Linked DNA regions of Homo sapiens. The protein of the gene in region 2 purifies or fractionates together with the protein of the main gene of each other region. This does not show direct contact. Each region holds a gene or a part of one and is shown on either strand. Other genes may lie near its edges.

The links.
Region 1: the proteins of ZNF691 (region 2) and PDCL3 purify together in Homo sapiens (affinity purification with mass spectrometry; one large-scale study listed by BioGRID and IntAct). This does not show direct contact.

Annotation. Positions count from the first base shown.
Region 1 is NC_000002.12:100,572,980-100,577,239, forward strand, and holds the end of PDCL3 (phosducin-like protein 3), read left to right. Parts: intron 1-3,374; coding exon 3,375-3,517; 3' UTR 3,518-3,760; downstream 3,761-4,260. UniProt on the Homo sapiens protein: Acts as a chaperone for the angiogenic VEGF receptor KDR/VEGFR2, increasing its abundance by inhibiting its ubiquitination and degradation.
Region 2 is NC_000001.11:42,849,607-42,852,984, forward strand, and holds the end of ZNF691 (zinc finger protein 691), read left to right. Parts: 5' UTR 1-52; coding exon 53-136; exon of another isoform or gene 137-1,080; coding exon of another isoform or gene 1,081-1,137; intron 1,138-1,343; coding exon 1,344-2,207; 3' UTR 2,208-2,871; downstream 2,872-3,378. UniProt on the Homo sapiens protein: May be involved in transcriptional regulation.

The DNA.
Region 1 (4,260 bases), on a different chromosome or scaffold from region 2:
TTTCAAGCAATTCTCCTGCCTCAGCGTCTCAGGTAGCTGGGATTACAGGCGCCCACCACCACGCTTGGCTAATTTTTGTATTTTTAGTAGGGACAGGTTTTCACCATGTTGGCCAGGCTGGTCTTGAACTCCTGACCTCGTGATCTGCCCGCCACAGCCTCCCAAAGTGCTGAGATTACAGATGTGAGCCACCGCGCCCGGCTGTGTTTTTAAATTCCTTTCTACCTGTTAAACATGGAGGTATCAAAATACATACCCACACAGAACGTGAAGGAGAACCTCAGCCCAGAGGCATTCTTGCCAAGTGAAACTCTTTATCTCTTTATTGAAATAATATTTCCAACTATGCTTTACCAGAAAGACATTTTTAAACATGACTTTATATACTGTACCACTAAGATACTCATCTGGCGGCCGGGTGCGGTGGCTCATGCCTGTAATCCCAGCACTTTGGGAGGCCAAGGCGGGTGGATTGCCTGAGGTCAGGAGTTGGAAACCAGCCTGGCCAACATAGTGAAACCCTGTCTCTACTGAAAATACAAAAAATTAGCTGGGCGTGGTGGCGGGCACTTATAATTCCAGCTACTCGGAGGCTGAGGCAGGAGAATCACTTGACCTGGGAGGCAGAGGTTGCAGTGAGCCAAGATCATGCCATTGCACTCCAGCCTGGGTAACGAGCGAAACTCTATCTCAAAAAAAAAAAAAAAAAGATATTCAGCTGGGGAAAGTATAAATATACAAACATACATAAACACACACATATAGGAGATACATCAGTTACATATTCCAGTGTTCAAAGGCGTACAGCATTTCAAACTAAATACATGTTTGCATCTTATTTTGACCTTTTTTGAATGTACCATGAGGGGAGAGAGAAGTGTGCAATTGTTTTTATTTCTAAAAAAAAGTCTTGAAGTCTAGTGAACTTACATATAACGATTGCTTTGTGTAAGTGAACAGTAACATTAAACACTTATGTACGTATGTGTGGATATATAAAGATATATATATAGAGAGAGATATATATATTTTTTTAATTTTTGAGACAGGGTCTTGCTCTGTCACCCAGGCTGGAGTGCAGTAGCACTATCTTGGCTCACTCCAGCCTCAGCCTCCCGGGTTCAAGCAATTCTCGTGCCTCAGCCTCCTGAGTAGCTGGGACTACAGGCATGTGCCACCATGCCTGGCTAAGTTTTGTATTTTTAGTAGAGACGGTTTCACCGTGTTGCCTAGGCTGGTTGTGAACTCCTGACCTCAAGTGATAAGTGATCCACCTGCCTCAGCCTCCCAAAGTTCTGGGATCACAGGCCTGAGCCACCACATCTGGCTGGATATAAATTCTTGAGTCAGGAATCTGAAGTCTTGTTTTTTTTTTTTTTTAAGAAACAGGTTGAATTTATATAACATTCAACCAAAGTACCTAGAGCCGAAAATACTGGTGTTACTCATCTTCGTGGAACACTTTTTTTTTTTTTACCCAGCATGACTGAGGTATGATGACCAAAACAATTGAATATATTTAAGATATACAACATGGAGATTTAATAGAGGTACAATGTGAAATGATTACCACAATCCAAGTAATTAACCATCCATCATTTCACATAGCTGCCCTCACTGTGGTGAGAATCCTTAAGATCTACTTTCCTAGCAAATTTCAAGTATACAATACGTTATTATTCACTGTAGTTACCATGTTCTACATTAGGTCTTCAGAACTTACCATCTTATAACTGAAAGTTTGTATCCTTGGCCAACATCTCCCATTTCCACTCCTCCCCTGATAACCACCATTCTATTCTCTGTTTCATGGAACACTTTAAGTTAATAAGTAAAATTCAACTGAGCACGTTGGCTGAAGCCTGTAATCCTAGCATGTTGGGAAGCTAAGGCTGGAGGATTGCATGAGGCCAGGAGTTTGAGACCAGCCTGGGCAACATAGCGAGATCCCATGTCTACAAAAAAGAAAGTAGCCAGGTGTGGTGGTGCACACCTGTAGTCTCAGCTGCTAGGGAGATGGGCGGGAGGATCATTTGAACCCAGGAGTTCAAGGTTACAGTGAGCTATGATTGCACCCATAGCACTCTAGCCTGGGTGATGGAGTGAGAGCCTGTCTCCAAAAAAGTAGATTAAGATAAGACTTCAGTAAAATTGGTTTTCAGATTTTTTTTATTTTGAGACAGTCTCGCTGTGTCGCCCAGGCTGGAGTGCAATGGCGCGATCTCGGCTCACTGCAAGCTCCGCCTCCCACGTTCACACCATTCTCCAGCCTCAGCCTCCCGAGTAGCTGGGACTACAGGCACCTGCCACCATGCCTGGCTAATTTTTTGTATTTTTAGTAGAGACGGGGTTTCACCGTGTTAGCCAGGATGGTCTCGATCTCCAGACTTCGTGATCCGCCCACCTTGGCCTCCCAAAGTGCTGGGATTACAGGCATGTGCCACCGCGCCCGGCCTGGTTTTCAGATTTTAATCGATGTGTCCAGTTAGCAGAACTCTCTGCCTTGATGTTCCTTTAAGCGAAGCCATTTGTTGTAGAATCTCTTACGTAGTCCTTTGGTTCTGCCTGGGCTCTTCTCTGAAGTAGGCAAATACATCACTTGATTTTGCTTCACTTGGTCTCAGACCACAAGAATTTTGCTGATTTTAAGAGTGAAGTATTGGAGCTGAGTCTTCAGTTACTGATTCTTTATTATCTGGTGCTTTTTTGATTAGTTGGAACAAATGTGTAAGTTCTAGGGTATCACCATACATTTATTCTTTGACCCCAATAGATTGAGATACTGGACATGAGGCTGAAGAGTTTATTAAAATTGGATTTAATGATTAGATTGCCAGAAGGTCTGTGGAAATTATTTCCTTCAAATTTTTCATGCTGATTTCCTTCCTGGGAAATTGTAGTCATCAGAGGATAGGTTTATTCTTTGTATTTTTGAGACAGGGTCTCGCTCTGTCGTGTAGGCTGGAGTGCAGTGACATGATCATGGTTCACTGCAGCCTTGAACTCCTGGGCTCAAGCGATCCTGCCACTTCAGCCTCCCAAACAGCTGGGATTATAAGCACACACCACCACTGTACCCAGTGAATTTTTATGTTTTATTTACTTTTATTTTTATTGTTGAGACAGTCTCACTGCTGCCCAGGCTGGAGTGCAGTGGTGTGATCTTAAATGTCTGCAACCTCTACCTCCCAGGCTCAGGTGATCCTCCTGCCTCAGCCTCCCAAAGTGTTGGGATTACAGGCGTGAGCCATTGTGCTGGGCCAAATTTCGATAATTGTATTTTCTACTTAGAAAAAACTAGGTTGATGGACTTAGGGCGAGGGAACCTTTGCAGCACAGTGCCTTAGGCAATTTGCTTTTTCTTTACCATATAGAGTTGGAATGGAAACTGTCTGAATCTGGAGCAATTATGACAGACCTGGAGGAAAACCCTAAGAAGCCGATTGAAGACGTGTTGCTGTCCTCAGTGCGGCGCTCTGTCCTCATGAAGAGGGACAGCGATTCCGAGGGTGACTGAGGCTACAGCTTCTATCACATGCCGAACTTTCTTGTGACAAATTGTCTGGATTTTTTAAAAAAGGAAAAAGCAAGAATGAATCCTTGTGGTTTTTAGTTTTGTATAAATTATGTTTCAAATCTTTACATTTTGGAAATAATCATTGCTGGAGATTCTGTTAAATATTTTGGAACTCTTTTTTTTTTTAAATTATAGTATTTCCTCTAAAAAAAATTAAAACCAGCCATTTGTATGGCAAATGTCTGTTTTCCTCATTTATATTTTAAGTAAGCCATAAAACCTAGTCACTATTTTTTGACATATAACTATAAAAAGAAATACAGTTTTAAATGTGAATAAATTATACAGTGGAAAATTGCAGACTAAGCCTTATAGATACATTGTTTATTTTTATTTTATAAAGAGAGCAGTGAGATTATTAAACTACAGGAATGGTCTCTAGGACAAAAGAATGTTAGTATTGAAGAAACAGACAATTTTTGTGAAACATTCCCTTATTGAAGCAATAACTGAAAGTTTCCAGTTTACTGCCATATTTGGTTAAATGTGTTTTCTTGTTAAAATAGTTTATCTCAGACTGTTAACTAATTTTTTTTTTTTTTTGAGATGGAGCTTTTCTGTGTTGCTGAGGCTGGAGTGCAGTGGCACAATCTCAGCTCACTGCAACCTCCACCTCCCGGGTTCAAGCAATTCTCCTGCCTCAGCCTCCTGAGGAGCTGGGATTACAGACGTGCACCATCACG
Region 2 (3,378 bases):
TATCATCAGTGTCCTATGATAGTTTGTGCTTCCCTCCCTCATCCCTTTGTTCATGTCACTCTGTTCACCAACCCACTCTGCTGAAATGTCGTTATTTCTTCAAGGCCCGGAGGAAATGCTACCACTCTCATCAGAGGTACTTTTCCCCCCAACTCTTTCCCTGTCCTTGGCTGTAGGAACCCAAAGGAGTCTGTGCAGCTTAGCACACATTAGTGATGTTTGCACAAATCAGGACCTGTACTGGGCACTCTTATGTGTTTAGTTTTGGGGTGGGGTGTGGGGAGTGTGGTTTGTGTGTCTGTGTCTGTGTTTATCTTTGTGTGTACTTGGTATGTGAGTGTGTGTCTGTGTGTGGTGTATGGGTATATGTGTATAGACATGTATGTAGCTATATATGTGTGTGGCTGTGGTATGTGGCTATATGTGGTATGAGTGTGTATGTAGTATGTATGTGTGTGGTGTGATAATGTATGGCTGTGTGTGGTGTGTAGGTGTATAGCTGTTGTGTGTGGTATGAGAATGTGACCGAGTATGTCAGGTATGTGAGTATGACCGTGTTACGTGAGAATATGGCTTTGTGTATGGTGTGACTGTGTCTGTGTGATTCTGCTTGCTTGTGTGCATGCATGCGTGTGTGGGCGGGGGGTGTGGGTGGGGCTTTGTATGGTGTTTGAGAATGTAGTGGAGGGCACTGACTGATCAGAAGAAACACAGCCCAGGCCCCACAGTAGGTCCTGGAGGTCCCAGGTATTAACCCAGATGTTTACTTGCTAGATTCTGGTGTGGGCTGGAGAGGGGTAGAGTGGCAGAAATCTCAAGAAAAGCCAAAGCTGGGCCTTGTCACCTAGGAAAGCCTCAAGATTTAGAGGTTTTGTTTTGTTCATTTTGAAAGCAGGCATATAGGTAGATACTTGTAAGGAAGGTTTTTCAAAAAGGATTAAACATAAAAAGAGTTACAGTTAACTTACAGTTAGGCAGAAAAATTGAACTTATCCCAAAATGAAAGCTCTTTTACTTGCCCATGAATTATAGTCTGGATTGTCATTGCTTAGTGGTTTCAAGAAGAGTGACATTATTCAAATGGCACAAATATCATCTGGTGGTGGTGGACAAAGCCGGTGCCTTCTTTTTGCTCTGGTGGGTAGCTTTAAATATCTCTGAAAGTTTGTCACTTAAAAGGTAGCAAGTAAAGGTATTCTATCCAAGTATTCCAGTTGATTGAGGTTATTTCTAATGGATGGTCCCATGGGGAAGGTGTATACCCTTCAAACTGAACAAAAGATTCCCTGTGATCTGGCCCAACCCAAAGAATAAAGGTGTTGGCCATTTGTGTTCATTCTCAGGGTTCAGAGATGGGCAGTGAGAAGGAGCAGAGTCCAGAACCACACCTGCCTGAGGAAGGGGAAGGGGGTAAGCCTTGGAGAGTGGATGACTCAGAGGGTTCTTGGATCCCACCTGGGGAGAAGGAGCATGGGCAAGAGAGCCTGTCGGATGAACTGCAAGAAACTCATCCAAAAAAGCCATGGCAGAAAGTCACTGTCCGGGCTCGAGAGCTAGGGGACCCCATTGCTCATCCAAGGCATGAGGCAGATGAGAAGCCCTTTATATGTGCCCAGTGTGGCAAAACCTTCAATAATACCTCCAACCTGAGAACACACCAGCGGATCCACACTGGTGAGAAGCCTTACAAGTGTTCTGAATGTGGCAAGAGCTTCTCGAGAAGCTCCAACCGCATCCGGCACGAGCGGATCCACCTGGAAGAGAAACACTACAAATGCCCCAAGTGCCAGGAGAGCTTTCGGCGGCGCTCAGACCTCACCACGCACCAGCAAGATCACCTAGGCAAGCGGCCATACCGCTGTGACATCTGTGGCAAGAGCTTCAGCCAGAGTGCCACGCTAGCTGTGCATCACCGGACCCACCTGGAGCCAGCACCCTACATCTGCTGTGAGTGTGGGAAGAGCTTCAGCAACAGCTCCAGCTTTGGCGTGCATCACCGCACCCACACAGGTGAGAGACCTTATGAGTGCACTGAGTGTGGGCGGACCTTCAGCGATATCTCCAACTTTGGAGCACACCAGCGGACCCACAGAGGGGAGAAGCCCTACCGGTGCACTGTGTGTGGGAAACACTTCTCCCGGAGCTCGAATCTCATCCGCCACCAGAAAACTCACTTGGGCGAACAGGCTGGGAAAGATTCCAGCTGAAGGAGAGCCCCATTTAGAGTGAGGGAGAGAGAGTGAGAGACCCTAACCTATTGGAGGAAGATCTTCAGCATCTTTTGCTGCTACCTTGACCTCAAGCCCTTCATCCCACTTTGGAGAATGGTTTTGTATAGCCTCTGAAGTCAGGATCTCAGGAAGTCCTGAGGAGGGACTCTGGAATAAAAACCCTTGCCTCTTTCCAGGCCAATTTCTCGTGTTGGAAAGTCAGAAGACCCAGTCTTGGCTTTACTTTCTTGGGGTGAAAGAGAAATAGGGTAGGCTCAGAACATGCTCATGTTATTAAGGCAGCAGTCCCCCTGGCCTTTGAGGAAGTACTTATGAGATGGGTGTCACTGTCTGAAGGTTCTCCAAATTGTCTGTGAACTGCTTAGGTAGGAGTGCACTGCAGTTTCCTGCTAGTTCCCACCTGTTGTGCCCCAACTTTGCTTCTAGATCTCTGGGGTGGGAGGAGTGACCTTCTCAATGGAAGGGGCCTCCTTGGTCTGGAGAAGAGATCTGAGGTCCCACCTTAGAAATGAAAGGGAAACCCTCAGGGAGCCATGACCCAGGGACCTTCACACTCCCCCATGTTTGTTACTTGTTATCCCTCCCCCAACCTGCCTCTGTTTTCCCCAGAGTGATTAGCAGTAAAACCCTTCAATGAAAAGGACCCGTGTACTTATTTGGGGAAGTGGGGAGCTGGGGAGATTGTCCCACTGAACCCACTCTGGAAGGGATTTGAATTCTAAGAAAGACAGATGGGTAGATGCTCTGAAAAGCAAAGGAAAGCAGACTGAGTTTCTGGGGCCTTTGAGGAGAAGGGGGAAAGGAAAGGAACTAACATTAATTGAGCATCCACTACATGCGATTAATTCTGTCAGTCACATTTACATTCATTATCTCATGTAGTTCTCACAGCAACTCTCAAAGGAATAAGAAGAGGACATGAAAGTGAGGGAAGATAAAGTCACTTGCTGTGAAGTCATACAGCAAGTACGTTGTGGAGCAGAGTTCAAACTTGGGCCTCCCTGACTGCCAGCTGTTGCTCTTTTCACTACATTTACCTTTTGGCTTCTGAAGGAGGAGCCACTTAGGAGACTTGCCTGGAGTTAGGAGCCAGTGTGGCCTCTTCATATGGCCTTGGGCCATTTGCTCTATGGCAAGTCAGTGCCAA